Regions from separate parts of the Homo sapiens genome. Here regions 2, 3 and 4 are each reported to be linked to region 1. Evidence: microRNA targets listed by miRTarBase, many of them from high-throughput screens and not tested one by one. Region 1 holds a microRNA gene; each other region holds the end of a gene's coding sequence.
Evidence for each region. The annotated mature microRNA hsa-miR-4760-5p reads UUUAGAUUGAACAUGAAGUUAG and lies in region 1 at 4,622-4,643, opposite strand. An mRNA with a match to its seed (bases 2 to 7 or 8) in the 3' UTR can be bound and repressed. Matches are read on the target gene's strand: a 7mer-m8 pairs with bases 2 to 8, a 7mer-A1 pairs with bases 2 to 7 and ends in A, and an 8mer does both.

Region 1 (7,982 bases):
GTCCAAGACCAAGTTGTTGACAGGGTTGATTCCTCCTGAGGCCTCTCTCCGTGGCTTGCAGATAACCATCTTCACCTGGGGTCCTCACACGGTCACTCCTCCATGTGTGTGGCTACACGCTAACCTCTTCTTAGAAGGACACCAGTCAGATTAGATGAGAACTACCCTTAGGACCTAATTTTACCTTAATCACCTCTTTAAGCCTCTATCTTCAAATACAGTCACAGCAGGAGTTGCGGCTTCAACATGCGAATTTTAGGGGGAGACACAAGTTAGTTCCTAATAATACCTATAATACATTATCAATGGAATAAAAATGGAATCCATGGAGTAATAGATTTAGTGTATGTTCCCATCAACAAATATTCCTGGTTCAAATTTGAGCAGCACTGGCCAGGCATGGTGGCTCTTATCTGTAATCCCAGCACTTTGGGAGGCTGAGGTGGGTGGATCACCTGAGGTCAAGAGTTTGAGACTAGCCTGGCCAACATGGTGAAACCTGATCTCTACTAAAAATGCAAAAAATTAGCTGGGTGTGGTGGTGGGTGCCTGTAATCCCAGCTACCTGGGAGGCTGAGGCATGAGAATAGCTCGAGCCTGGGAAGCAGACACTGCAGTGAGCTGAGATTGCGCCATTGCACTCCAGCCTGGGCAACACATTTCTGGGCTAAACCGGGCCACAATTCCATTGTCACAGAAAGTGGCAGCGAATCTCAAAGGGTTTTCGGTTGAGCATGGAGAATGGCTCACTGAGCTGTTGCTTTCATTGTTTTCCCCAAGGATCTTGGAGTGCTGCATGCTCTCATATTCTCACATGGTCAGGAGTTCTTACTCACCAGGAAACAGCTGGGGAAAGAAGTAACATGTCCTCTCTAACTTACATGTGAAGGAACATTTTGAGTATGACGAGAACATGCAGAAAGATCTCCTGACATAACTGTTATCCGTAGGGGGTTCCATTTAGCCCTACACAAAATCCCCTTGGGTTGCGAAACAGAAATATGGAGAGGCAGCTGCGGCTTTCACTGCCCTACTCCTCCCTCCTCTTAACCTTTCATTTAAAAATCTAAAACAGGCCAATCTGATCCTCTAGGAAGATTAAGAAATTTTTGCTGGCAATAGGAAGCATGCAACTAAGGAAAAAGCCCTCAAAACAAACAGCCCCTCAAAGATGAGGTCTGAGCTATTGTGATTTCTTTTCAGAAGCTCTAAGAGCAAGACAGCTGACAGCTAAATGAGCGGGCACTATTTTGAGAACTCGCATTCAGGATTAATTGTAGGGGTGAGGTTCTGTGGGCTCAGAGAGGCTGCCTGTAGCCACGAGGACAATGAGTGATTCTCCCCTCATCGTCTTCCACTTGGGACTCTCAGAGCTGGTTGCCATGGTTGATGAAGTGAAGTGCACATGCTTCCGCCTTGATGACAGTGAGTGACAGGAGGTTGTTAAGGAAGCAGTGGGGGAGGATGAGTGAGAAGGTTATGCAGGGTGTGTGGCCAACCCTGGACCTGTCCAGTATAATGCCAGGCTTTGAGCAAAATGCCAAGAAGAAGACTGGATGAAGTGAGAAACTACTCATTTCATAGACGTTGCATGGCGATGCCTGCACACACAAGACTCCTACATTTCTGTTCTTCCTCTTCTGCTCTCTTTTCCACTCTTACCCTTGCTGATCTGACCTGCTTGGGCTGTCTCGATTATTTCTTATAAAGCCCTGACCACTCTCTCCTGAGCTGCTGTCTCCCATCTCTGGAGGTCAGCCAGGTACTTCCATTTGGAAGGCACACCATCCCCTTACAATCAACATGAGACAGATGAAATGTGGCACCTTTCCTTCCAAGCTTTCTCCCTGTCCCTATTCCTGTCCCAGGCTCCTCCTTGGATGGATTCCAGGTCCCCAAGGCAATCAGTGGCCTGGTCCTTCTTGGTCAAGGTTCATAGCATCATTTAAATTAGACTTGTCCCCTCTAGGCCCGTGACCATCAGCTTACTGCAAGCCATAATCAGGATGCCTGTGCTGGGCTGTGAAATGGCATTATAACTCATCGCTCATTCATCTTCCTTTTCCACTCCAGTCTATCCTAGGGCTCTGCCAGACTCAGCTTCCTCACATGCAACTTCCAGTATGATATCCTCTCACTTGCAATTTACAATGTCTTCCTGCTATTTACAGATTAAGCTCAGTTTTCACAGCTTAAAAGTTAAGACGTTTTATAATCTTGCTGCAACCTATGTTTCCAGTTACCCACTAACTCCTTCTTTACCCAGACATTCCACCCCAGCACTCAAACATACCTTGTATGTTTCTCCACCTCCCCCATTCCCTATTTTGAGGTCTGAGAACATGGTTTTCCTTTTCCAGGTATGACTGGCTGGCACTGTTTTGCCATTCTGAAAATTACCTCCAGTTCTTCAAGTTGGATTTCATTCCACCTTCCAGGTTAAACTCACGTCCTACCTCCTCTATGGAGCCCTCCCTGACCTCACCCCTACAAGGGGCTCTCCCTTCTCCAAACTCCCACAACTTTTTAATGTATATATTCACATTTATTGCACATATATATCTTTTGGCATTTACTTTTACAAAGCTAAAGTTTTGCAATACAGACTCCTAGGAAGTTGCAAAAATAGTAGAGTCCTGTGTGTCCTTTAGCTTCTGGCCATGTTGTGAATTTCCATAGCTGTGGTGCAATATCAGAGCCAGGAAACCCACATGGGAACATTCCCAGTTAACATTATCCAGTAGACTAGATGCCTTCATCTTTTATTCATTTATTTGTTCTTTAAGATGGATTCTCGCTCTGTCACCCAGGCTAGAGTGCAGTGGCACGATCTTGGCTCACTGCAACCTCTGCCTCCCAAGTTCAAATGATTCTCCTGCCTCAGCCTCCCCAGTAGCTGGGATTACAGGCATGTGCCACCATGCTTGGCTAATTTTTGTATTTTTAGTGGAGATAGGGTTCCACCATGTTGGCCAGGCTGGTCTCGAACTCCTGACCTCAGGTGGTCCATCCTCCTCAGCCTCTCAAAGTGCTGGGTTTACAGGCATGAGCCACTGCACCTGGCCACCTTCATTATTTTTAACCCACATTCATTTGTGTGTATGTGCTCGTGTAGCTCTGTAGGTGTATACTTCCGTTTAACTTTATCCCATTACAGGTCCATGTACCCACCACCACCATCAAATGAGGAACTATTCCACACCACAGAAGAATTCCTTATTCCTATCTGTCTGTGTTTGCACCTGGCCCCATCCTACCCATTGTACCTGTCTACTAGTATCCACTAAGGTATTCTCCACCTCTGCTGTTTTATCGTTTTGAGAATGCTTTATAAAGATAACTTTTTGAAGTTGGCTTTTTTTCACTAAGCGTAATGCCCTTCAGACTCATCTAGGTTATTGTGTGTGTCAACAGTTCATTTCTTTTGATTGCTGAATAGCAGCATTCCAAACTATGGATGGACCATAGATTTTTCAACCATTCACCTGTGAGAAACATTCATTTTGTTGTTGTTGTTGTTGCTGTTTGTCCAGAATTTAGCTACTATAAAGAAAGCTGCTATGGATATTTTTATATAACTTTTTGTGAACATAAATTCATATTTCTTTGGGATAAATGCTTAAGAGAACAATTGCTGGACCACATGGTAAGTGCATGTTTAGTTTTATGAGAAACTGCCAAAGAGTTTTCCAGAATGTCTGCACCATATTACATACCCACCAGCAATGCATGAGAGATCCAGTTTCTCCACATCTTTGCCAGCATGTGGCGTTATAATTTTTAAAAAATTTTTGTTGTTCTCATAAATGTGTAGCCAGGCATGCATTTTTGATGTGTAGACCTATCCACCTATCCATCAGGGCATGAGTCAAACATTTCCAAAGGCAGTGACTTGTCCTTGGTACAGCCCATGATGCATCAGACATGTAGATTCTCACCAAAATACCTATGGACCAACTGCCTTCTATCTAGAAGTGTTATCACACTTTCCACTGCATACTCTGCTAATAGGCACTTTTATCCACACCTCATTATTCTCCTCCATCATTGCCCTCTGGATTGTAAACTGCTTGAGGTTAAAGATGATGTCTTAATTGTGTAGACCCTAATTGTTGGCAAATAGTAGCTGCTACACAAATTTGTGTGTGTGTGGGTTTTGTTGTGGGAGACTGAAATTCTGAAGCTTTTTTTTTTTTGGTGTGGGGGGTGGGAGGGAGTCTTGCTCTGTTGCCCAGGCTGGAGTTCAGTGGCCCAATCTCTGCTCTCTGCAGCTTCCGCCTCCCAGGTTCAAGCATTTCTCCTGCCTCAGCCTCCCAAGTAGCTGGGATTATAGGCGTGCACCACCACGCCTGGCTAATTTTTTTATTTTTAGTAGAGACAGGGTTTCTCTGTGTTGGCCAGGCTGATCTCGAATTCCTGACCTCATGATCTGCCTGCCTCGGCCTCCCAAAGTGCTGGGATTATAGGCGTGAGCCACTGTGCCCAGTCAATTCTGCAACTTTTTTTATTGCAAAGAAGGAAGGGTGCTCAAGGCATAGAGAACAACACAGAGGCCTCACCTTGAGAGGCATAGCCATGGGGTTTAGATTGAACATGAATTTAGTTTTGATACTTAAGAATTCTAACTTCATGTTCAATCTAAACACCATGGCAGCCCTGGTCTCAGCCTTACCTCTGCAGTCTAGTTGTCGCTTGGACAGTACATCCTTTCCCAGTAACGAGATGACACACCCCTGTGCATATTTCAGGCTGCTTTCTATCTTGTTTTTCACCATTCTCACACCAAGAACACCAAGGTTTGTGAGGCCTCTGTTGTATATTGTGACAAAGAGCAATTTATATGGTTGGCAATAAAGCAGGTTTTTTAGGGGTTGATATTTTTCAGTTTAATTTTCATCCCTTTAGTGGGTTGAATTGTGGTCCTTCAAAAATATATCAACATCCCAACCCCTGGAATCTCAGAATATGACCTTACTTGGAAATACAGTCTTTGCAGAGTTAAAGAAAGTAAGAACCTCTAGATAAGGTCATCCTTCATTAGGGTGGGTCCTAAATCCACTGAAGAATGTCATATAAGAGACAGAAAAGGAGAAGGCACAGAGACACAAAAAAGAAGCCATGTGAAGGTGGAGGCAGAGACTGGAGTGAGGCAGCCACAGGCTCAGCAGTGTGAAGGGTTGAGGAAGCCTCTGGAGGCTGGGAGAGGTGAGGAACTGATGTGCCCTCAGAGCCTCCAGAAGGCACCAGCCCTGCTGACTTCTTGATTTCAGATGTCTGTGAGAGAAGAAACGTCTGTTGTTTTAAGCCACTCCATCGTGGTCATTTTGCATGGCAGACCTAAGAAACGGATGCCATCTTCAAGATCATTTGAACAGTATAGAAAAATGTATTTCACAAAACTTTTACTTATTATTTCACATTTTTAAACTTCATATTCCACGTTTTGCTTTATTTTGGGTATCAAGGCTTCTAGGGCATATTTTAATCACCCCAGAAGCATGGACATAATAAGACCTGGTTAAAGAGTGCACTGTGAGTGAGCCATGGGGTGAAGGATCCTGCTGCTGCCTCACAGCCTCCTGCCTCCCTGTGCACACATAGGTTTACTGTCAGGACTGTAATGAGGTTTGCATGAATAAACAGCTTTAGAAACAGCTTTCAAGTTTCCACCAAAATACCTGTTAGGAAGTCTTGTTTCCACCATAATTGCTAATTGCTTACCTACATGTGACCTGGGTATCCATAATGCAGACATGAGCAACACATGATTGTAGAAAATTCTAATTTAAATTATTACATTTTTATTTGGGTTCCACGCAGAAAACATCTTAGGCAGCCACTGCAGATTATTTCTAGAAGCGAAGGGAAACCTGGCTTGGAGATGGAGTGGGTGAGAAGCTAGAAGGGAATCTGTTAAGGATGCCAGGGATGGAGGGGTTCCTTCTCCATGAAAATAAGTGGAGTCAAGGAGGAATCCTTGAGGCAGCCTCTCCAAGACATGCAGGATCATGGGTTTTGACTAGGGGAATTTTACGATATTCTAGTGCAGGGATATAAGGAGGCAATGTCCAGGGAACAGGGCTCTTCCCCCAAAGACAGAACCCCTGGGTCCCTCATCCTTTCCGCATCTTCTGCTGTGTTTGGTATCCAAGGCCCTTGGCCCAGCCATTTGGAGTCCACTCAAATCCACACCTACATGGTGAGGAATAAAGGGAGACAAACTCATTGGAGTCATTGCCCCCATAGAGCTTCCTTTCCTAGACAGACGGAAACCCAGCAAACACACGAAGCGAGACATCAGGCAATGAGTGATACCTGGGTGTAGAGAACAAGGCATCCCTTCTATTCTTGCTCCTAAGGATTTCAGGTAGTTTGTTGCCCAGCCCACTTAGGCTATAAATGCTGCTTTCTCTCCAACTAGTCATAGCTATCAGCCAGCCTGGCCACTTTGGAAATAAGAATATTTAATGCACTCATGGACGTGGGAGCCTGTGTTCTAAGACATTCTTACTCAGTCATAGTTAGCTGAGACTCTAAAGAGTGGCATATGTAATCAAGATAAAATATGAAGTGTGCATCTGGTATATTTTGGAGCCTATAAAGAAAGATTCTGTGCTGATAATATTTACATTGGGTTTTTCTTGTTGTTTTGTTTTTCCAAGATGATGGAATATAGGCATTGTTAGCATTCCTTTTCCACTTGGAAAGATAAAATAGTGTGTAGAGATTCACACTGTGAACTTTTTTCCAAGAAGGAACACAGGACCGTAAACAGCTTTGAAAGAAGCTGTGAGTAGCAGCCTACACCGCTGTCTTTGGGAAACACCACTGAACATGTAAGGATTCTTATAGACTACAGGTAAAGGGTGGAAAAAGAGATTTCCAGCAAATGGAAGCCAAAAACAAGGAGTAGCGATTCTGATATCAAATAAAACGGACTTCAAAGCAACAACAGCAAAAAAAAAAAAAAAAACAAAACAAAAAACAACAAGAAAAAGACAAAGGTCACTATATAATGATAAAATGACCAATTAAACAAGAAGATGTAACAATTGTAAATATATATGCATCAAACTCCAGAGTTCCTAAGTTCTTGAAGCAATCAGTATATCAAAAAGACACCTGTACACATGTTTATCACAGCACAATTCACAACTGTAAAGATATGGAATCCTCACGCCTGTAATCCCAGCACTTTGGGAGGCCGAGGCGGGTGGATCACGAGGTCAGGAGATCGAGACCATCCTGGCTAACAAGGTGAAACCCCGTCTCTACTAAAAGTACAAAAAATTAGCCGGGCGCGGTGGCGGGCGCCTGTAGTCCCAGCTACTCGGGAGGCTGAGGCAGGAGAATGGCGTGAACCCGGGAAGCGGAGCTTGCAGTGAGCCGAGATTGCGCCACTGCAGTCCGCAGTCCGGCCTGGGCGACAGAGCGAGACTCCGTCTCAAAAAAAAAAAAAAAAAAAAAAAAAAAAAAAAAAAAAAAAAGATATGGAATCAACCTGAGTCCTCATCAATCCATGAATGGATAAAGAAAATGTGGTTCATACACAACTTACCCATGTAAAAAACCTGTACGTGTACCCTCTGAGCCTAAAATAACAGTTGGAAAGGAAAAAAATCATAAAAGCAAGACTCAACTAAAAAAAAACAAAAAGAAAAAATTGTGATATATATACCATGAAATGCAACCCAGCCATAAAAAAAAATATAATGACTTTTATAGCAACTTGGATGAAACTGGGGGCCGTTATTCTAAGTGAAGTAACTCAGGAATTAAAAACCAGGTACTCATGCTCTCACTTATAAGTGGGAGCTAAGCTATAGGTATGCCAAGGCATTCAGAGTGGTGTAATGGACATTGGAGACTCAGAAGTGGGGAGGGAGGTGAGGAATGAAAAACTAGCAGTTGGGTAAATGTATACTATTTGGGTGATGCGTGCACTAAAATCCTAGACTTCACCACTACACGATTCATCCACG
Region 2 (7,982 bases), not on the chromosome of region 1:
CATTTTTAGGTTTCCTTCGCCCAATACCAATTAAAATCATTTATATATGTTAAGCTCTTAAATATTTAGCTCACAAGATCTGGTCTAACAAAGTCCTGTCTCAGTCTGTGATGACTGTGTGCTTACGTTAACGAAACACATTACAAAAAAAAAAGGTATGACTGTGTATATAAAATGTATTAGCTTTACTGTCCAACAAAAGTATCAGATCACATTCTGCAGTTGTGATTTTGTTAGTGTAATTCACCTACAGAATACCTATGCTTTTCTTCCTGAACTCAGTGGTCCTATACATTTAAGGCATACTGTACTTGAAAAGATTCAAAGATGCTGTTCTTAAAAGTGTAAAAAATAACTAATATACAAGAGAGTCACTAATATCTAAAATGATCTTGATACCATCTGTTTAAGGACTAGTTCAGTAAGACTCAAAGATTGAACTAGGTTATTTATTGCTCTATGTTCTCTACATATGGACCACAGAAGTCCGACTCAAAGAATGTAAAACAAGGCAGATTATGCATATATGTGTGTGTGCATGCATGTATATGTATATATGGTTAGGCCTACCAGGCAATCCTTATCATCTCTGGGTTTATGATATGACCTAGATTATAGGTATGTTATGAACTGAATGCTTATGTTCTCCTCCTCGTCTGCAAATTCATATGTTGAAGCCCTAACATACAAAGTGATGGCATTTGGAGGTGGGGCCTCTGGGTGGTAATCATGTCATGAGGGTGGAGCCCTCATGAATGAGATTAGTGCCCTTATAAGAAGAGACAGGAAAGTAACGATGTCTCTCTCTCTCTGCCAAGTGAGAATACAGCAAGAAGCCAGAAGAGGGCCCTCATCAGGAATTGCGCTGGATGGCACTTTGATCTTGGGGTTTCTCAGCCTCCAACTGTGAGAAATAAATGTGTTTTGTTACGCCACCCAGTTTACGGTATTCACCCAAAATGACTAAGGTAAGGTAAAGCCCTCCTTTCATTCTTCATGGTCTTTTTGCAAAACAAGAGTTAATTATATGCCAAGAAGCATTAGTGCCAGCACAGTTAAAACACTCTAGCGCACGTTAATTATGATGATTACAACTTAAGAAAACTATAATCAGAAACCTGGCCAGGCACAGTGGCTTATGCCTGTAATCTGGCACTTTGAGAAGCCAAGGTGGGCAGATCACCTGAGGTCAGGAATTCGAGAGCAGCCTGGCCAACATGGTGAAACCCCGTCTCTACTAAAAATACAAAAATTAGCCGGGCATGGTGGTGCATGTCTATAATCTCACTTACTGGGGAGGCTGAGACAGGAGAATCTCTTGAACCCAGGAGACAGAGATTACAGTGAGCCGAGATCGTGCCATTGCACTCCAGCCTGGGTGACCAAAAAAAAAAAAAAAGTACAGTAAGGCCCTTTAAAAAAAAAAAAGAAAAAGAAAAAGAAACCTAACTAACTCCAGTTTTCAAGGTGTTTTTATATTATCCTGCAGTTCTTTTGGTCCTTAATACAATCAATCCACTGCCACTAGAACCATGTAACTCTCCTCTATATAGTACTTCAAATTCTAATCATTTCTGTGCATATATTAAGCAATTTAAACTCTATATACATACATACTGTCAATGTATCGGGGAAATACAAAGAGTGATCTTTAGTTTATGCTGAATACTTAATTTTATCACTTCTCCATTAACTGTTATAAAGACAAGACTAAACCTACAGTTTGAATTCATTAAACAATATCCAAGCAAACAGAAAAGAAGAGGAAATAGGCAAGCCATGTTTTTCTACTAGAGTGACTATACTTATCCCTCTTTAAAAAGAAGTGATATTTTCAATTTCAGAAATTTGATTAAAAAACTACATCTATTTTTCCTACCAAAAATACTCAAAAAACCCTCTGCTAATTACTCTCAAAATACTGCAGATGTATTCCTTTGAAAAAGGAAATACAGGATGGGCACGGTGGCTCATACTGGTAAGCCCAACACTTTGGGAGGCCGAGGCAGGAAGATCACTTGAGGTCAGGAGTTTGAGACCAGTCTGGCCAACATGGTGAAACCCTGTCTCTACTGAAAAAAAAAAAAAAAAAAAAAAAAATTAGCCAGGCATGGTGGCAGGCACCTGTAGTCCCAGCTACTAGGGAGGCTGAGGCAGGAGAACCACTTAAACCTGGGAGGCCGAGGCTGCAGTGAGCCGAGATCACACCATTGCACTCCAGCTTGGGTGACAGAGTAAGACTGTCTCCAAAAAAAAAAGAAAAAGAAAAAGGAAATATAAAGCATCCGCCAATGAAACATAATATACATTAAAGGAGAAAACGTCTTTAAAATATGTACCATTTGCCCTCACGAGTCTAATAAAGGCTGAACCTTTTTTAAGAGGTAATTTTCACTATCAAGAAACTTGGATATAGATGAATTAAGAACCCAAATACACGTGGAAGCAAGAAGTGTACTTGTTTTAAAAATCATATTATGCCTTGCATGATTAATAAATTAATATTTTATAACTTGTGTCTTCAACAATTCAATTAGCATTTGGCATGACCAAAGTTTAATTAAATTAAAGACTTGGTGGTGCTTTGAATTAACATCAGATGCTGGTGGTCATCTCCATCCAGTATCCCCTTTATCCTCTAATATGTCCTTGAAAATGGCATGTATTATTCAGGCTAAACCTTTTCACAAAGGCAGATTGGTATACCAAATGTTGCTTAATCATTTCAATATCAAGGTCATTATATTTCTCCTCTAGGATTTGGTACTTTGAAGCAACTTCATTCTATAACACTTTAGACATCTATAAAAGCATGAACTTGGTCCCACATCAAATTTAGTTTCAGTGAGAAGAGTGGTCCTTATCTTTCTTTAGTCATCATTGAATTATAAAACACAGTTGATATGTATATAGTTCTGTATCACCTTTATACCCTAGGACATCAATTGTACTAAAATCTCAGCATATGTAGAATCCTGCTTGTGTTACTAAACATTAATATACTGGTATGAATATAGCAAAGGAACATCCTTTCAAAATCATTGCCTGTAAGAAATTGTATATATAAATTTGCTTCCTTTCAAATTGGCAAAGTAGCTTACGGCCTCTATTATCTCTACAGAAAATGGTTTGGGCCAGGTTCTTGAGGTAGCCAAGTTCCCCTTTAACAAAGAAAAGTTGGCAGACTTTCATAGCTGCTCCTTGTGAAGAAGATACCTCAAATATGATCTCACGATTGACTGTAGAAGATGAAGTTAAAGTTGCAGACTTTTAAGGTACAGTGCCCAAGGGGTTAAAAAAAAAGTACTGTTTGAGAGAAAGCTTAACATCCGACATCTGACTGGCTGCCTGGATGTGATGACCTAGGGGACATAAGAGAAAATCTTAACATAGATGTATATATAAGGATCAAGTAATTTTGAGGTCTGACACAAAGAAAATGTGTTCAATACATGCAAAAGATAAGAACCTTTATCTAAAAAATGTAAAGTCTCTTCTTGTTTATATGGGAAAATACAGGATGAATTTAATGCACTATAGGGGCATTTCCCTATCATAAATGAAGAGAATATGTTTCTTTGATCTCCAATGAAGAATTAGTTTGGGCAGAAAAGAATGGGACCCTTGGAAGCACTGATCTGGAGCACATGATAGAACAGAAAGGTTCTGCTTTTTTTTTTCTCTGAACTGCCAATGTACGTGATGGGGTGAGGAAGATGGGGCTGTGGGGAGGTGGCTGTAGGAATCAAAAAAAGTACAAAGCTACCCAGATGGGAATAATAATGGTTTGACCTTAATTCAAGAAGAAATGTTTAAAATGGCCAACAGATGCCTCTTATTGAAGTATAGCATCAGGGGATGAGCAGGCCAGAAGAGATTCTGGACAAAAGAGGAAGGAGGTCATCAGGGTTGGAATTTTACACTAACAGGTATTGCCACACAAAAAGAAAAATCACTCAAATGGTATCAAGGACAAGAGGAGTGCTGTGTAGCATTCCCTCATATATATTTATTCCCATTTAAAAACTAACTGAAGATACCCCACCACAACAAAGCCCTTTCTAAATGCTATCTTCATGATACCTCTGTGAGGTAGGCAGCATAATTCTAATTTTTACTCATAACCAAGCTAAGGCACAAATAGAGCCTGAGTGGTAAAAGTGGTCTTTTGCCAATTATCAGCTCCCTGGATTTGTTCACTGTGACACACTTCCTCCACACTGATGCAGGCAACTCAAGAGATGCTGCTATGAAATGTCCTTAGAGGTAGTAGACCTGATAGCTAAACAAAATCATTCATGACTCTGGAAGACAACACACTCTCTAAATGCTCACTGCTGGAGTCTTGGAAGATGCTCTTAAGAGTACTAATATGTGCGGTCCTTTTGAATAAGACCAAATCATCCATGATTATAGGAAAAAGGCTGAAGATACAGTCTTCTTGTTTCACCCCACACTGTTGAGATCGGAACTGTGGCAATCTTAACAAGTCATATAATCCAAGGAACCTTAGTCCTTAAACTTTAGTCTTAACTTGTACATTAACATTCTAAGTCCTATGTTTTGCTAATGATTTTGATGTTTTTTGTCAGATACATTTCCACATTCTTGGACTCAGGTAATTCTCTTTTAACACAGCCAAATTATCTTTATAAAATATACATGGTATTAACACCATGGATCTGAAGCAAACAATGCATCTGGTTAGCATACATTGGTTCTGTATATTTCGAGAATCACTTAAGTACACAAAGGAAGCGTGCAATGTTAGAGAGATGATGTGAACAGTCTTGGTGGTTTATCTAATGGAGAATTCGGTGTCCTTCAGGAAACTAAAGATACTCAAAAGTTGCTCCCCAATTTCTATTAACAATCTAAAAATGAACATTTCCATTTCATATAAATATACAAATTTAAAATGTGTGCAGTTCAGAATGGCCTACCATTTTTAGATTGCTTATGTGCCAGAAAATATACAGTCAATAAAAAAATACCAGAGAGGTGGGGACAAAAGGCTCTCTGGATCTGTACAGCAACAATGAATATCACTTCAACAGGTAGCTATTCGTGGAGGAAGTGGCATCCTGGGAACCAAGAAGCACTGAAAGATGGCAGGTCACAAATCTGGTGATGGGGGATATGATGTATAGTAAGGCCCGTTTTCCTGTGGAAAGAAAAAAGGAGAAGAACATTTAAGTAACAGAACCAATTTAACTGGAAATGTGAAAAAAAGGGATTTACAGTCATTGAGGTAGTGATATAAAATGTCTAGCACATGTCTGGCACTAAGCAGGCCCTCAGCCATTAGGTAGTTCAACTAGTATCACTCAGAGTATAAGACAGACAAAGGCAATAGGATCATAATATTTTTTAAGAATAATACCACTTATTGAATATTTTATGTGCCAGACAATTTATAGGCGCTTTTAAAGTCATCCCTTTAAATCTTCACATAATGCCATGAAGTAGGTAACATCCTCACTTTACAGAAGAGGAAACTGAGGATCACACAGATTGCATAATTTGCCTAAAGTTACCTAGTTGGTAACCAGCACAGCCTGAATTTAAATTCAAATCTATTTAAATCTAACATCCAGATTCTTTTTTGTTAGATTGTGTTGTCTTACTGTGTGCCAAATCTTAATTTAGAGTTAGGAAAACAAAAAAGTTATCACAGAGGAATTTAATAGCTATAACTATTTTGGCAGAAGTGAGTCTTCATGACATGCCTGAGTGGCAAGGCTTGTAACAATTACAGTTCTCAGGAAATTTAGTTCAAGATCAAGATGGAGAATTAAATGCCAAACCTTTAATGTCAATGTAAGGGTAACAAATTAGTGCAAGGGGGAATTTTTTGGCTCTGATTTTGGCTAATCTCAGTAAAAATCAAGACAGTTAAGTTTATGATAGAAGGATCCTGGATTAGATTTATGAGACTTAAGATTGCTTTCTCATTTTTAAGGAAAGTATTTCTTTGACAAAGAATTTGTTTTTCAGCAAATCACAAACAGATAATGCTTAGCACTAGTATAAGACAATAGTTTGAAATGAAGAATAAGTAGAAGAAAATAGCATTTCTTCATGGTACATTTACATTATAGCTACTACAGAGCATTAAACCTACCGGGTCTTGAACATAGCAGGCAGTGAAATTGTTTGAGACTAAATAAATCAGGTACTCTGCCATTCTTCAGCACAAATGCTTTGGAGCAAGAATTGATCTTGGGCCATAACCAGGAAAACAAGACATCTAGGAAAACTTACATTCCAATTATAAACCTAACCATGTATCAAACAAAATAAAAAAAATAGGTAGAAACAAATCCTAGGATAGGCTACATTTCTAAAAACTTGAAAAACCTTAATAAAACCTTTTTTTAAAATTGAAAAATTGGATCTAACTAAAGAGCTTCTGCACAGCAAACGAAATTATCATCAGAGTTGAACAGACAACCTACAGAATGGGAGAAAATTTTTGCAATCTATCTATCTCACAAAGGACTAATATCCAGAATCCACAAGGAACTTAAGCAAATTTACAAGAAAAAAACAATCCCATTAAAAAGCAGGCAAAGGATATGAACAGACACTTCTCAAAAAAAGACATATATATGGCCAACAAACATATTAAAAAAACAGCTCAACATCACTGATCATTAGAGAAATGCAAATCAAAACCACAATGAGATACCATCGTATGCCAGTCAGAATGGCGATTACTAAAAAGTCAAGAAACAACAAATGCTGGTGACGGTACGGAGAAATAGGAACACTTTCACACTGTTGGTGGGAATGTAAATTAGTTCAACCACTGTGGAAGACAGTGTGGTGATTCCTCAAAGATTTAGAACCACAAATACCATTTGACCCAGCAATCCCATTACTGGGTATATACTCAAAGGAATATAAACCATTCTATTATAAAGATACATGCACATGTATGTTTACTGCAGCACTATTCCCAATAGCAAAGACATGGAATCAACCCAAATGCCCATCAATGATAGACTAGATAAAGAAAATATGGTACATATATGCCATGGAATACTATGTAGCCATAAAAAGGAATGAGATCATGTCCTTTGCAGAGACACGGATGAAGCTGGAAGCCATTATTCTCAGCAAACTAATGCAGGAACAGAAACCCAAACACCGCATGTTCTCACTTACAAGTAGGAGCTGAACAATGAGAACACATGGACACAGGGAGGGGAACACTTACTGGGGCCTGTTGGGGGAGGGTGGGGGGAGAGCATTAGGGGAATAAGCTAATGCATGCTGGGCTTAATACCTAGGTGATGGGTCGATAGGTACAGCAAACCACCATGGCACATGTTTACCTGTGTAACAAACCTGCACATCCTACACATGTACCTCAGAACTTAAAAAACTAAATAAAATAATTTTATATAAAAAAGAAATACCTATAAAAATGTTTCACTGACCAAATCCTTTATCTTCAATATGCATGGAAGCTATACTTACAGAAACATGCCCTGAAGAGATGAATCTATTCTGAGTTTCATCTGAAAAGTTCACTATCTGTCTTTAGGAGTTCTCTATTCTATTACCAATTTTTTCTAAGTTTTTCACACCTACATTAAATTATGACAAACTAAGAAGAGCAAGTTCAATACTTAATGCCATGAAATAGAATTTCCATTATTAATTTCACACTGGGCAAGAGACTGCTGAGCAATCAAATATTTTTTCTATTTCTGGAAACAATCATAGAAATTTTAAGAATTGTTGCCAGGAAAAACTGTATATTCTCTGCTCTGTGTTTTTAAGAATGCCAATAACTCTCTTTCTGAAATGGTCTCAGTATCATTGTTACCTAGATAGGTTAAAAAATAGCTTCTGATTACCTTCAAAGGTCCCTTTTAATCCTATAAAATTGATGTTGCTATTCCAAGTCACATAAATCCCAGAAAAATAGAAGCCCACTGAAACTTGGGTTTCTTTTTTTTTTTAAACAGATA
Region 3 (7,982 bases), not on the chromosome of region 1:
AATTACAATGTACTGCCATTTGGAGTTACCTAAAAATAATAATAGCTAACACATCTTCAACATGCTAGGCACTATATTGTGTGCTTTACATATATTAACTCATTTGATCCTCACAAACTTTTTTTTTTTTTTTTTTTTGAGACGGAAACACCTATCACCCAGGCTGGAGTGCAGTGGCGCTATCTTGGCTCACTGCAATCTCTGCCTCCTGGGTTCAAGCGATTTTCCTACCTCAGCCTCCCAAGTAGCTGGGATTACAGGCACCTGCCACCATCCCCAGCTAATTTTTGTATTTTTAGTAGAGACAGAGTTTCGCCATGTTGGCCAGGCTGGTCTCAAACTCCTGGCCTCAAGTGATCTGCCTGCCTCAGCCTCCCAAAGCGCTGGGACCTGGGATTACAGGGGTGAGCCACCACACCAGCCCTCACAAACCTTTTGAGGTAGAAAATATTACCATGTCCTTTTTTACAGTCAGGAAATTAAGGTTAAGTAATAAGATTGTGGCCCTTGACCACACAGAGCTAAAAAAGAATTTACTGGTTTAGATTGAGCAGCTTGCTAAAGAATAATTTTTAATTATTTTTAATCTGTGTTAGATTTTTTTAAATAATTTCATTTTTAATTGTGGTAAAAAATATAACAAAATTGACCATCTTAATGAGTTTTAAGTATTCAGTTCAGTCATGTTAAGTACATTCATATTGTGGTGCAGTAGATTTCCAGAACTTGTTCATCTTGCAAAATTGAAACTCTGTACCCGGTAAACAACAACTCCCCATTTCCTCGTTCCCCCAGCCCCTGGCAGCCACTAATGTAAGTCCTGTTTCTATGAATTTGATTGACTTTAGATGCCTCATAAGAGAAATTACACAATATTTGTCTTTTTGAGACTAGCTTGTGTCAGCATAATGCCCTCAAGGTTCATCTACGTTTTGGCATGCAGAGGGCCTTCCTAAGGCTGAATAATATTAATATTACATTGTATGTATATACCACATTTTGCTTACCACTCATCTGCTGATGGACATTTGGGCTGCTTCCACCTCTTGGCTATTGTGAATAATGCTGCAATGAACATGAGTGTTCAGATATCTCTTCAATACCCTGATTTCAGTTCTTTTGGATCTGTAGCAAAAAGTGGGATTGCTGGATCATATGGTAAATTTTGTTCTTAATTTTTTGAGGAACCTCCATTCCATTTTCCATAGCAGCTGCACCATTTTACATTCCTACCAACAGTACACAAGAGTTCCAGTTTCCTCACATCCTCATCAACAATGGGTATTTTCTGCTGGTGGTGGTTTTTTGATAGTAGCCATCCTAATGGTTGTGAGGTGATACCTAGTGGTTTTGATTTGCATTTCCCTAGTGATTAGTGATGTTGAGCATCTTTTTTTTTTTTTTTTTTTTTCTGAGATGGAGGCTCGCTCTGTTGCCTAGGTAGAGTGCCGTGGTGCAATCTCGGCTTACTGCAACCTCTGCCTCCCGGGTTTAAGTGATTCTCCTGCCTCAGCCTCCTGAGTAGCTGGGACTACAGGCACCCACCACCATACCTGGCTAATTTTTGTATTTTTAATAGAGATGGAGTTTCACCATGTTGGCCAGGCTGGTCTTGAACTCCTGACCTCATGATCCACCCGCCTCTGCCTCCCAAAGTGCTGGGATTACAGGCATGAGCCACCGCACCCAGCCTATATTGAGCATCTTTTTATAGGCCATTTATATATCTCTGGAGAAATCTCTGTTCAAGTCCCTATGCCCATTTTTTAAATTGGGTTATTTTGCTGTTGAGTTCAAAAGTTCTTTATATATTCTAGATTTTTTTTTTCCCTTTCTTTTGAGACAGCATCTTGCTGTCTCCCAAGCTGTGGTATAGTGGCATGATCATGGCTCACTGCAGCCTCGACCTCCCGGCCTCCAACCTCAGCTTCCTGAGTAGCTGAGACTACACGCACACACCACCTAACTAATTTTTAATTGAGACAGGTTCTTGGTTTGTCACCCAGGTTGGAATGCAGGTGGCAGGATCACGGCTCACTGCAACCTAAGACCTCCTGGGCTTAAGCAGTCCTCCCACCTCAGCTTCCTGAGCAGCTGGGACTACAGGCATGTGCCACCACACTTGGCTAAATTTTTAAAAATTTTTTTTTAGAGACAGGGTCTTAATATATTGCCCAGGCTGTTCTTGAACACATGGGTTCAAGAGATTCTCCCACCTCAGCCTCCCAAAGTGCTGGGATTATAGGCGTGAGCCATACACCTTGCCTATTCTAGATCTTAACCCCTTAGCAGATATATGATTTGCAGATATTTCTTCTCATTCTGTAGGTTGCCTTTTCACTATTTATTGTCTTTCGATGTGCAGAAGTTTTTTAGTTGGATATAGTCCTATTTGTCTATTTTTGCTTTTGTTACCTCTGCTTTTGGTGTTGTATTTAAGATATTACTGCCAAATCCAATGTCAGAGAGTGTTTTCTTCTAGAAGTTTTATAGTTTTAGGTCTTACGGTTAGGTCTTTGATCTATTTTGAGTTAATATTTGTGTACAACATAAGGTGCGGCCCAACCTCACTCTTTTGCATGTGGATATCCAGGTTTCCCAGCACCATTTGTTGAAGAGACTGTTAGATTTTTTTAAATGCCCTGAAATGATTAGTTTGTAAGATTTTCTATTTAAAGGATTGTTACACATTGAAATTTAGCTTTAATGTTTTCTTAGTTATTGATATGGATAGAATTTCAAGTTTTGCAGGAATTATGCAGAATATTTTAATTAATAGTAAGATGTAATTTTTAAGTGGTCATTTAGGTCTTGTTTGTTTATGGAGTTGTTTTTTTGTTTGTTTCTTTGAGACGGAGTCTCACTCTTGTCACTCAGGCTGGAGTGCAGTGGCGCAATCTCAGCTTACTGCAGCCTCTGCCTCCCAGGTTCAAGCGATGCCCATGGCTCAGCCTTCCAAGTAGCTGGGACTACAGGCATGTGCCGCCACACCCCGCTAATTTTTGTGTTTATAGTAGAGAGGGGTTTCATCATGTTGGCCAGGCTGATCTTGGACTCCTGACCTCAGGTGATCTCCCTGCCTTGGCCCCCGAAAGTGCTGGGATTACAGGCGTGAGCCGCCACGCCTGGCCAGATTAAAATTTTAATATAAGGTAATTTCCAAGTAATTCTGTATATCTTTTCCAATGCTTAATATATACTAAAATGTTGGTTGCTGTGAGCTATTTCTTTAAAAAAGAAAAAAAAAAGGTAATCCAAAATAAATATGTGGAAATCATTTGCATAATTTTTCCCGTCCTCTTTTGCTTGTAGGGAAGCAGCTCGAGAGTGTCGTAGAAAGAAGAAAGAATATGTGAAATGTTTAGAAAACAGAGTGGCAGTGCTTGAAAATCAAAACAAGACATTGATTGAGGAGCTAAAAGCACTTAAGGACCTTTACTGCCACAAATCAGATTAATTTGGGATTTAAATTTTCACCTGTTAAGGTGGAAAATGGACTGGCTTGGCCACAACCTGAAAGACAAAATAAACATTTTATTTTCTAAACATTTCTTTTTTTCTATGCGCAAAACTGCCTGAAAGCAACTACAGAATTTCATTCATTTGTGCTTTTGCATTAAACTGTGAATGTTCCAACACCTGCCTCCACTTCTCCCCTCAAGAAATTTTCAACGCCAGGAATCATGAAGAGACTTCTGCTTTTCAACCCCCACCCTCCTCAAGAAGTAATAATTTGTTTACTTGTAAATTGATGGGAGAAATGAGGAAAAGAAAATCTTTTTAAAAATGATTTCAAGGTTTGTGCTGAGCTCCTTGATTGCCTTAGGGACAGAATTACCCCAGCCTCTTGAGCTGAAGTAATGTGTGGGCCGCATGCATAAAGTAAGTAAGGTGCAATGAAGAAGTGTTGATTGCCAAATTGACATGTTGTCACATTCTCATTGTGAATTATGTAAAGTTGTTAAGAGACATACCCTCTAAAAAAGAACTTTAGCATGGTATTGAAGGAATTAGAAATGAATTTGGAGTGCTTTTTATGTATGTTGTCTTCTTCAATACTGAAAATTTGTCCTTGGTTCTTAAAAGCATTCTGTACTAATACAGCTCTTCCATAGGGCAGTTGTTGCTTCTTAATTCAGTTCTGTATGTGTTCAACATTTTTGAATACATTAAAAGAAGTAACCAACTGAACGACAAAGCATGGTATTTGAATTTTAAATTAAAGCAAAGTAAATAAAAGTACAAAGCATATTTTAGTTAGTACTAAATTCTTAGTAAAATGCTGATCAGTAAACCAATCCCTTGAGTTATATAACAAGATTTTTAAATAAATGTTATTGTCCTCACCTTCAAAAATATTTATATTGTCACTCATTTACGTAAAAAGATATTTCTAATTTACTGTTGCCCATTGCACTTACATACCACCACCAAGAAAGCCTTCAAGATGTCAAATAAAGCAAAGTGATATATATTTGTTTATGAAATGTTACATGTAGAAAAATACTGATTTTAAATATTTTCCATATTAACAATTTAACAGAGAATCTCTAGTGAATTTTTTAAATGAAAGAAGTTGTAAGGATATAAAAAGTACAGTGTTAGATGTGCACAAGGAAAGTTATTTTCAGACATATTTGAATGACTGCTGTACTGCAATATTTGGATTGTCATTCTTACAAAACATTTTTTTGTTCTCTTGTAAAAAGAGTAGTTATTAGTTCTGCTTTAGCTTTCCAATATGCTGTATAGCCTTTGTCATTTTATAATTTTAATTCCTGATTAAAACAGTCTGTATTTGTGTATATCATACATTGTTTTCAATACCACTTTTAATTGTTACTCATTTTATTCACTAAGCTCGATAAATCTAACAGTTACTCTTAAAAAAAAAAAAAAAAGACTAAGGTGGATTTTAAAAATTGGAAACTGACATAATGTTAGGTTATAATTTCTCATTTGGAGCCGGGCGCAGTGGCTCACGCCTGTAATCCCAGCACTTTGGGAGGCCAAGGTGGGTGGATCACCTGTGGTCAAGAGTTCAAGACCAGCCTGGCCATCATGGTGAAACCCCATCTCTACTAAAAATACAAAAATTAGCCAGGCGTGGTGGCTGGCGCCTGTAATCCCAGCTACTCAGGAGGTTGAGGCAGCAGAATTGCTTGAACCCAGGAGGCAGAGGGTTGCAGTGAGCCGAGATAGCACCATTGCACTCCAGCCTGGGCGACTCCATCTCAAAAAATAAAAATAAAAAAAATGTCTCATTTGGGAAGGAAATTCCTTTTAAAAAAGAGTTGAGACACTTAGAAAACTAATGTTTTATATTTAGTCAAGAGTTATTTAAGAAAGTCAAGCTTGTTTAACAACAAAATATGAAGATTTAAGTGTTAATTGCTGGATCCATTTTAAAATAAGATTTTAATTAACATTTGTAAATGGTATATTTTCGTTTGTAACAAACCATTGTCTTTTTTCAAGGATGAACAGAGTTTATGAAGGAGCATCATTCTAAGAATTAAGTGATGTAGTCTTTATGTTTGGACAGTTCACCAGATTCTCAAGAAGGCTTTCAAACAACTATAAAGTTTGATGTTTGTCCTGCTGAGCTAATGGGGAAAGTTATAGCATAAAAATTGTGTAACCGCATAGATATGTCATTTTTAAAAACTGGTTTAACAGAAATCAAGCAAAGTCACAAATATGTTCACAAGTTGGAATTATTTATTGAGTCAAAATGTCGAATCGAACATTTTGAATGAAGTAAGTGTTATAAATGAAAAATTGCCTGATGTTTAGCAGTTTGTATTCTCTAAAGCTTTTTTTCAAAAGTTCAGGCTTTCTACTTACTGGGAAGTTGGTGGTCCTCTTAGTCCCTGATAAATCAAGGCAATCACATTCATGTGAGCTGGATGAATTTATAAGTTATAAAGACCTTATCCTTCATACCTTGAGGATGATTGCACTGGTTTTGAAGTCAGTTGCTTAATGATGAGGTGAGAAATGTATCCTGTTGCTAAATCTGTCTTAGACCCTTGGTGAAACTTGAAGATTTCAGTTTATAAAGATAAAATCAAGCATCTTTTGTGCAGTTTTCTTTTTTTAATGCAAGAATGGTGGGGAGGTTTGTTTGTAAGCATGAAACTTTGAGAATCTTTATTAAGAAAATGACATAATTTTTAAAAACCTTGTAGCCAAGAACATATGTGGCCACATTACCAGTAATAAATGTTTTTCTCTTTATATTGGCCAAAAGGGAATAAAAATGTCATCATAGGAATTTGTACATATGCTACTGATTTGCCTAGAAAATAGCAAGTTTGATATTGCTCACTTTGCAAATATAGGGCCATGTGGCACTTTTATCTATAGGACAGATTAATAAAAATGAAGTGGGGAGGGGTTTATTTTTGATATATTACTCTTATGAGTTTTCAAGCTTTGATAATGTTTAACTGAAAAGTGGCTTAGAAAGGGCTAGATCCAATGTGTTCATTATTAAATAATTGCTATCAGATACAATTTTAAGTTCATTCTTTTTCAAACTCAAGTACCATATTGGCAACCATAATATTGTCATAGGTGCTCTCTTCATTTAGATATTCTTGGGGGGGGTGGCATTTGTATAATATATGTGTACATATATATATATATATATATATATACATACAGTATATAATCTAAAGCTCTGAGAGCTCTTAAGTCAGGAATGCTGAGTATTATAGTATATTGAGGTCAGATGAAATTTTACATTTTTGTGTGTTCTGTTGCATTCCTTCTGGTAGTTTCTATGACTGCATTACTCCAGCACTCATGATTGATTTTATCTTCTAATTTTCTTCCAAGTATTTTATTTTTTATTAGTTTTCTTTGGCTTGATACTTTTAAATATGTTACTAGTCACTTGAAAGCCTCTCCCCCAAAAGTATTTGGTTTGTATGCTTTGTCTGTGGCAGCTATAACAGTGGTAAGAACATTTTGAAGATAGCTTTTTAAAGGAACCACTGATTTTTTCAAAAATCATCCTGGGGGAGGAATTTTGGCATTTCATTTGAGCAGGGATTTTGTCAGAAAATGTGTTTTGATGGTAGGTCAGCAGCAGTGCTAGTCTCTGAAAGCACAATACCAGTCAGGCAGCCTATCCCATCAGATGTCATCTGGCTGAAGTTTATCTCTGTCTCTCAGGATAAATCCCTGTAGGACAAATCCCTACTATCATTTCTACCTTTTGGGGTGACATGTGGAATCATACAAAGGCTTAGGAAGAAATACGTTTGTTTAAACCAGGATGCTTTACTTACTTGAAGTGACTTCAATCTAGATTTCTTTTAATATTTAACAAATTTTTAATTCTATGATCAGCCACAGTCAGCTATTACCATAAATTGGTCTCTGTTTATTTTGAAGATCACGGCTGCTTCATTTTGCAGGATTAAGTAGGGCTAATGTATCTTAAAGTTAAGATCTTGAATTAAAGTGAGTTTTAGAAATAGTGTTACATACCTTTTCAGTTGTTTTCAAGAGGCTTTATTTTTGTTGCCTTTGTAGCCCTGAAAGCTGTTGGTATATTTTTTCCCTCATGGACCCAATAGAAAAGTTGTATATTTATTTGGATTATATTTACATTCTGTCCTTTGTAAATGTTTGGTGTAACTTGCACTTTTTTAAATGACCCAGTTTGGGTATTAGCAACTTAAGAAATTCCCTCATCAAGTAATTCTCAACTTTTTAGTCTTTCTCCTCTCTTCAAATCATGTGACTTTTTAAATGGAAGTTTTTCATTGATTAAAATATTTTAGCACCTAAAAGCTAGCCTTAAAAACAGCTGTAAAAGAAAAACATCAGGAAATTAGATATGACTAGCCCAGTTAATTAAAAGACGGGCTCAAACCTTGTTTTATTCTTTTTCATCTTGGATGAAGATTGAAGGGAAAATAACTCAAGTGCATAATATTTATTTTCAATTTTTAATGAGACTTTATCCT
Region 4 (7,449 bases), not on the chromosome of region 1:
ACAAAAAAAACTAGAGTGGCCAGCACAGCCTCCTAGCCTGTCCTGGAAGTGTTTGCTAATGCTGTCTCTTCTTTGCCCCCATACCACGGGGTTAGGATGCCCATGATGCCACTGAGTACTTCCTTCTGGCCCTGGCAGCAGCGGTCCTGCTGGGTGATGAGGAGCTTCAGGACACCATTAGGAGCAGGCTGGACAACATCTGCCAGAGCCCCCTGTGGCACAGCAGGCCCTCCGGGTGCTCCTCAGAGAGGGCGCGGTGGCTGAGTGGTGGTGGCCTGGCCCTCTGAGGAAAGCTGTCCTGTCTCTGGACATTTGGCATGGCCAGACTCTGACCCCACTGCCCTAGGCTCTTAAATACTCATTGGGAGGGTCCGAGTCCTTACCTGGCCTAGCCCCCTCATTTCACAAGAAGAAGAATGAAGTCCAGGAGGAGAAGGGCTCATTGCAGGCCACAGAAAGATTTGATGGTGCAGCGATGAGAATTCCTGGTTCCAGGCTTTGCATCTGGAGCCTTTACCGGTTGACTGTTGCCTTCCACACAAACAGCCTCTGAAAAGCACTTTCTCCATACATAATTCTGGAGAAGATGAGGGATCTTGCCCTCCAGGAGCCTTCCTTCCTCCCCCAATGAGGAAATCAGTCACTGCACTGGTGCAAAGGCAAGCAGATTGGAATTTGTGCTCTTCACCGATTTTCTCAGGGAAAGACCCCTTCCCCTTGCCAGCAGAGGAACCTGTAGTTTTTTCCATTTCTTTCTTCAGAACCAAAGTATGTATCACTCCTCATGCTCACAGGGATTGACAGGAGAGAATTCACCAGGATCTTAGCTCAAAAGACACAGCCTCAGAATGGCCAGATGGATTGCACGAAACCTGACTTGGATTCACCATCTTCCTCCTGCCATAAGGCTGTGCTCCCACATAACCTCCCAGAAGCTCCAGGGAAGCTTTCCAAGAGCAAAGGCTTGGAAATTGAATGTTAAGAAAATTATGACATAAATTACATGTAAATAGTGTATATGATTAAATATTGTCCAGTTACATTTACACACACATTTTGTCTCATCCACAATGGGGGCAGATGAGATGGAGGACTTGATGGATGGGAGAGAATACCAATACATGTCTTTTTTTTTTTTTTTTTTTTTTGAGACAGTTTCTCCTCTGTTGCCCAGGCTGGAGTTCAGTGGTACAGTCAGGGCTTCCTGCGACCTCAGACTCCGGGGCTCAAGTGATCCTCCAGTGTCAACCTCCTGAGTAGCTGGAACTACAGGCATGTGCCATACCCAACTACAAGGCATCTTATTGATTTCAGGGCAGCTGCTTTACAAAGCATCTCTATTAATAACATCACTGCATAGCACACTGAGTGGCCTAAAACACTTATAATCTCATGGTTTCTGAAGGGCAGGAATCCAAGCATGACTTAGCTGAGCCCACCAGCTTAGGGTGGTTCACAGGCTGCAATCAGCTGGGGCTGCAGTTATCTCAACTTCAACTAGAGAAGGATGGGCTTCCAAGCTCACCCACACAGCTGTTGTTAGGAGTCAGTTTTTTGCTAGCTGTTGGCCAGAGGCTTCCTGCAGCCACTTGCCACGTGGGCCTCTCCACAGGGCAGTCACAACATGGCACCATGCTTCACTAGAGGGAGCAAACAAGAGGAGCAAGAACCAGAGTGAGCAGGAGAAAAGGGAGTGACTCTTTCTATAACCTGATCACAGAAGTGACATCTCCTTAGTCTTGCCTATTCAATTCATAATAAATGAGTCACTAGGTCTAGCTCCCACAAGAGGGGAGTGTTTACCAACAGCTTGAATACCAGATGGTGAGGAATCATTGGGGATCATTTCAGAAGTGACCTACCACAGTATCTGAGTTCTTTGATAATGAAATTGGGAATTCTCTAATTTCAGCAAACTGAAAATATGGTCCACTAACCAGCAGCATCAGCATCACCTGTGAGATTGTTTGAAATGAAAATCTGTGGCCCCACCTATGATCTCTGAATCAGAATCTCTGGATCCCAGAACGCTGACTCGTCCAAGCTTTCCTGGTGATTTTAATGCACCCTAAAGTATGGGAAGCACCACTGCAGGGCAAGAGCCCTCAGATAGTGTGCATAACTATTACCTGGTGAGGTTGTGGAACATGAACTTCTTGGTTTCTATCTCTAATAATTCTGATTCAGTAGATCTGGGATGTATCCCAGGAACATGCATTTTTAGAAAGCAACTCAAGCAAGCCTGATGCAGGTGGTTCACCCTTGCTCCTTTTCTGTGAACCACAAGGATACCAGCCATAATTCCCTGCATCTGATGCCCATCAGCTTAGCTTTTATTATCAGACCATCTGCCCTTAATTTCTAGCTTCTTGGGCTGACCAGATGATTGGTTGTATGAAAGGGTGAGATGGGAGTGGTGAGTTGAGCCGCCATTGCATCTTCTAGTCATCAAGGTTGTCTACTAATTGGCACACATTTTCTCTTAGAGATGTGGTTGGTTGTCAAAAGGCTGTCTACTCTAGAGAGTATTCTCCAGGAAGGAGAAGCTTCCAGTTGTCTAATTAGTAAAGTTATCTAATCTACTACCATGGAGAATAGATGTGGTTTTGCCCCCACCACAAGCTGTAAAAGCCCCAAGCTGGGAGGGACGTTGCGGTTGAGGCTATTCAGTCTAATCTCCCGTGCATAGTCCTTTCAACAACATTCCTGGGAGACAGTCAGGGGCACACACATTCCAGAACAGTTACATATCGTGTATTTGAAGAAGGCTCACACAGCCCTGGAAACCATGCCACTGGCCATTCCCCATCTGACTCAGGTTACAGATCCCCTCCCTTTTCCCACTGACCACTCACTCTCCTCTGGCCAGATTTGTTTCTGTTTCTCTGAAAGAGCAGTTCCCACAACTGCATGAGGCTTTTGATATTGGCCGGTGGGTGAAGAGTACAGAGGGATGTTACTATACTTAATTTGATTCTTCCTCTCCCCAGCAGCCACATCTGTCCTTGGCTTCCATTGAGCTTTATAATCAGTTGAAACTTCTGTGTCTTCTGACTTGAACTTCTGTTTGGACAGATCTTTCTCAATTGCTGCAAATATGCACATGCATTTGCATATGCATACACATACACACACATACGTGAAGAGCGTTGTTTCTATCCATGTTACATCTCCTTGGAAATTTTAGCTAAAATTTCCCAATTCTGTGCACTTTGATTTACCTATAAATCTGATGAATTTACCCATAACCAGGTCAGTTATAAAAATGTTTAGCATGTTTCCAAAGACAAGGGTAAGACTATTTTTTTAAAATAAGAAAAACATTGTGCTATATAATTGCAATTACTACATTCTATATGTAAACCGCTTGCTAAAACTCTTTTAAAAAGTGTTTAAAATTTTCATTTTTGAAATGTGGGCCAGCTATTCCCTTTGGAAACATGTTGATGCTGTCTTTTTTTCATGATCCACAGAGAGTAAAGTGGTGATTGGATTTGGTCTCTACTTAAACATTTAAAAAAATAAGTGTATCATAGCCAAACATGATCTAGTTACCCTCTTTATTCTAATTGTTCCCTCAAATCTTATATGGGCTGTGTGACTGCTGGCTCCTTACATCTAATCTAAATAAAGAACAAGAAGGGCATTGCAACATTGTGGAAAACCCTGTAACATGTTTTCTCAGCTTTCAGGTATACTAGTTCCCTGTCCAACAGTATTAACATTCTGAAATCCAATATTGCTTTTGTCCTTTTCTTATTTGCTTTTCCATTATTTTAAGATGCCTTTATATTGTGCATGTGTATATATATGTATGTGTGTGTGTGTGTGTTCATTTTCTTCCTCTTTGTAAATATAATGCACCTCATTTGGCAGAAGTTTATTTGGGGAAGGGAATATGCAGGAATGGAGGGTGTTAGGATGAGGGATCAGGAAGCCTATCACTAAAGGGAACCTGTATTTTGGTCTTGATTTTGATATTAAATTGCAGTGCGACCTTGGGCAAGTCACTTAACCTCTACACATCTCAGATATTTGTCCTCTGATAAAAGAACCTCACCTCTGGGTTTTTCAGCAGTGCTATTTTTATACTGTATGAATAGGATGAGAAATAGTATTGGAGAGATGAAATAATATATTTTTATAGCTCAATTATATTATCTTCTTTTTACAGGTGAGTAAACTGAGGAACAGAAGGGTAACTTTCTCCCAGACACATTGGTAGTTAGTGGCAAAGACAGTGGTACTTGAGGCGGGGGTCTCATGACTCAAGGACTTAGTTGCACAAATGACAGGATTTCTGCTGTTCAGGGCTTCCTTCACAGTTGTGTGTGTATATGTACACGTGTGTGTATGTATGCATGCATTTATCACGATATGCACCAAAGAGCCTTTACAAAACATTTTCTAAATTGATTTACTTCTTTTACTCATATTAACTTATTTTTATAAGGGATGACTAGTCTATATAGAAGAAAAACTTGTATTGTTTTCCATAAACAGAATTATGTAAATAATGGCAAATACAATGAAAATAAAATAATGCATTAACTTCAAGCTAGGTCCTGTTGCTCATTGCAAGCACCCAGCCTAGGCCTTATCTGGCATTGTTTGAAAACAGAGAGATTAATAAGTGGCAGAGAGTGTAGATGACAGACTAGCAACAACCACTTTTTCCTTGCACACTCAGAGAAATGGAGTAAGCAGGGAAGAGGACTGAGCTCCTTCTGAGGAGGGTCAGTGTCATTCAATGCCAGGTTTGGGCACACATTTCAGGGAAGTGGGGATTCAGCTGGGTGACAGGAAAGGGGCAAATGATATATTATGTAATATGATTCAGTATCAGAAGCATTGTGATTGGTGTTAGTTACAGGATGTTACAGGCACTGCGGGGAAGGGATTTTACCCAGACAGGGTTACGGGCATCAGGAAGGGCTTTCTGGAGGACGTGATATCCAAACTGAGTTCTGAAAGGGACACTTACTTAATTCTAACTGCAGACCAGCAGGTTGGTATTGACAGACAGTGCATGTGTCAAGCAAAGGTCCAGAGGGTGGACAGGGGGTGATGTTTTCTGAGAACAGGTCACTCTGAGTGCAGTGAGGCTGGAGCAGATTCAGGGAAGCAAAGAGGGTTTGGATTCTACCTGGAGGTTGAGGGGAAGGTATAGAAGGATTATAAGCAGTTGAAAGAAACATGGTCAGATTTGTGCTTTGGAAAGATGATTCTAGAAGCAGCATGAGACTAGATTAGGGCAGCAGTGGAGAAGGTAGAAAACACATTAGGACTTGGCGATTGCAACACAACACTCCAGCCTTGATTCAGATATCAACAGTTTTCCCCACTAATGTTCTTCTGATCCCACATTGGATTTAGTTGCCATATTTCCCTATGCATCTCTGGTCTATGACGGTTTCTGCCTTTCCTTGTTTTTCATGACCTTGTCAGTTTTGGTCTCTTTTCCTCTTTTAATTGCTCCCATTGAGATGTGTGGACAAGCGGCAAAGAAGGAAGAAATTCAAGGGAATGGGCTCTGCACTCACTCAGGTGGCAGCTCAGGTGGGGGCAATGTAATGTGTTTTGGAGTTGGGCATACTTAGGTTAGAATCTGTTTCTTACTAGCTGTGTGACCTTCTGCAAATTAATTAACTTCCCTGAGCCCAGGGCTGTCAGAATTATATCAGACTTACTTATGTCATAGACAAGGAAATGGCTAAAAAGGAAATCCATCTTTGGAGGCATGTAAGCCTTGACATTGAGAAGTGCAGCCAAACCTGGAGGTGTGGCCAGGCACCCTGGTCCTGCATTCAGGGACACTTGGGTCTGAAGCTCTTTCTCCTTTTCATCACTGAGTGACCTGAGCAACTTACTTTACCTCTTTAAGCTTCAATTATTCCTCTGCTCAGACTTTTAATTGAGACGAGATGTATGGATGGCTTGGTATGAATGTCAATTGGTGGTAGCTGTCACAATGAAGCAGAACTGAGTAGATTCTTAATAAGCACATCTATTCCTGGGTCCCACACCGTTAAGCGGGAGGGTGTGTATGTTAGGGGTGCTCTTTGCTACTGGGCCTCTCACTTGGCGGTCTTCCCTCTTCGGTGGGACAGCATATATTTCCTGATATGTACCCCCTCACTCTCCCAACTCTGTCTGATTATTCCAGAACTCAGGGGACTTGAGGATGGAGGCTGCTGGAAGTGCTGGCTCTGGGAATGTGCACTTCGTTCACCCTCCTCTAAGGGGTGTCTTCTCCCCAGAGAAGCAGAGACAAGTGACTGCTTAGGGGGTGGGGATTCTCCCCAGCTGCCATGGTGCAGGATCAAGAATAACTTGCGTGGCCAGGACTGCACAGTGGGGCTGCTTGGCTTGGCTTCCCAGTACAGACTGCGAGGCAGGTGAGAGGGAAGGATGCTGTGCTTTCAAAACGATTTCAAAGGTGAGAACCCAGCTGCCACTTCTAGTGCTGCCTTTGACTCCTTATCCAGGGCATCACACTAGCTTGAGGGATGAGGCTCTTTGAGATGAACTTCCAGACAGGGTAGGTGAGAGGATGGTTGAAGTCACATGGCTAATGAGAAGACAGGCTAATCCATTGCTGTCCTTTTCTGTGAGAAATCCAAGAGTTCCAGTAGGGGGCAGTGATGTCTTCCTAAATAGTGTATCATTGGTAAAGAACGTATTTAATATTAATAGTTCTGAATCAGACTAGGGTAGTGGCTGTCAAATCCTTTTTTGTTGTTATGTTGTTGTTGTTGTGGCCCACAGTAAGAAATGCATTTTATGGTTTATCCTCGTGTGCATATGTTTGTGCATATGCAACAACATAGAGAAATGCACTCATACATTCTGTTTTGTTCTATTCATTTTTAAAAACATTCTATTCTAGTTAAAAAATATCAAATTTATGACTCACCAAATGAATTTCTCACTCATTAACCTGTAGTTTGAAAAGTGCTGACCTGGAGGGTGGTCTCTAAAAAAGTGCAGGAGGGCTCCAGCCTTTGTTCTTTTCTATGTATTATTTGATGGATATCTTACTTCTTTTTGAGACCAGAGAGTGTGTACATCTCAAAATAAAAATAACAGTTGAGGTTAATGTGTTTTATGCATTAAGTCTCATGCAAAACCTTTGTGATGACTCTCATGTAATCACACAACATTTTGGTGTAGTTACTATTATTTTTATCTCCACTGAGGTTTAGAGAATTGATGTGGCTTGTCTAAGTCCACAGTTAGTGGTGATCGAGGTGAAATTTGAAGTCATGTCCTCTGATGCTGGAGCTAGGAAATGAAACCATTATATTATATTGTGTTTCTGTCAGGTGACACATCTCTGAGAGAAATGCTATCACTAATATGATCATGAATAGAAGCATTAGATTAAAACTTGTTTCATCAGCCTGAAATACTGGGCTGAAATCAACACAATCATTCTGGTGTAATTGA

Region 2: miRTarBase lists GDAP2 as a target of hsa-miR-4760-5p. Seed matches in the 3' UTR shown: 8mer at 4,948-4,955.
Region 3: the mRNA of CREB1 is a reported target of hsa-miR-4760-5p. Seed matches in the 3' UTR shown: 7mer-m8 at 4,868-4,874 and 8mer at 6,675-6,682.
Region 4: miRTarBase lists SH3TC2 as a target of hsa-miR-4760-5p. Seed matches in the 3' UTR shown: 8mer at 3,621-3,628.

What each region holds. Positions count from the first base shown.
Region 1 is chr21:40,207,780-40,215,761 of GRCh38, forward strand. MIR4760 (microRNA 4760) reads right to left here and starts at 4,652; the gene lies at 4,573-4,652. The region is part of intron 11 of DSCAM (DS cell adhesion molecule); the gene reads right to left.
Region 2 is chr1:117,865,453-117,873,434 of GRCh38, forward strand. GDAP2 (ganglioside induced differentiation associated protein 2) reads right to left here. Exons shown (of 14, transcript NM_017686.4): 14 at 1-5,164. The coding sequence ends at 5,117. Among named protein-coding and RNA genes, the nearest start is that of GDAP2, 60 kb to the right of the region's middle.
Region 3 is chr2:207,593,602-207,601,583 of GRCh38, forward strand. CREB1 (cAMP responsive element binding protein 1) reads left to right here. Exons shown (of 8, transcript NM_004379.5): 8 at 3,313-7,982. The coding sequence ends at 3,457. It also overlaps a transcript of METTL21A not described here. Among named protein-coding and RNA genes, the nearest start is that of METTL21A, 28 kb to the right of the region's middle.
Region 4 is chr5:148,997,549-149,004,997 of GRCh38, reverse strand. SH3TC2 (SH3 domain and tetratricopeptide repeats 2) reads left to right here. Exons shown (of 17, transcript NM_024577.4): 17 at 96-7,449. The coding sequence ends at 287. Among named protein-coding and RNA genes, the nearest start is that of MIR584, 61 kb to the left of the region's middle.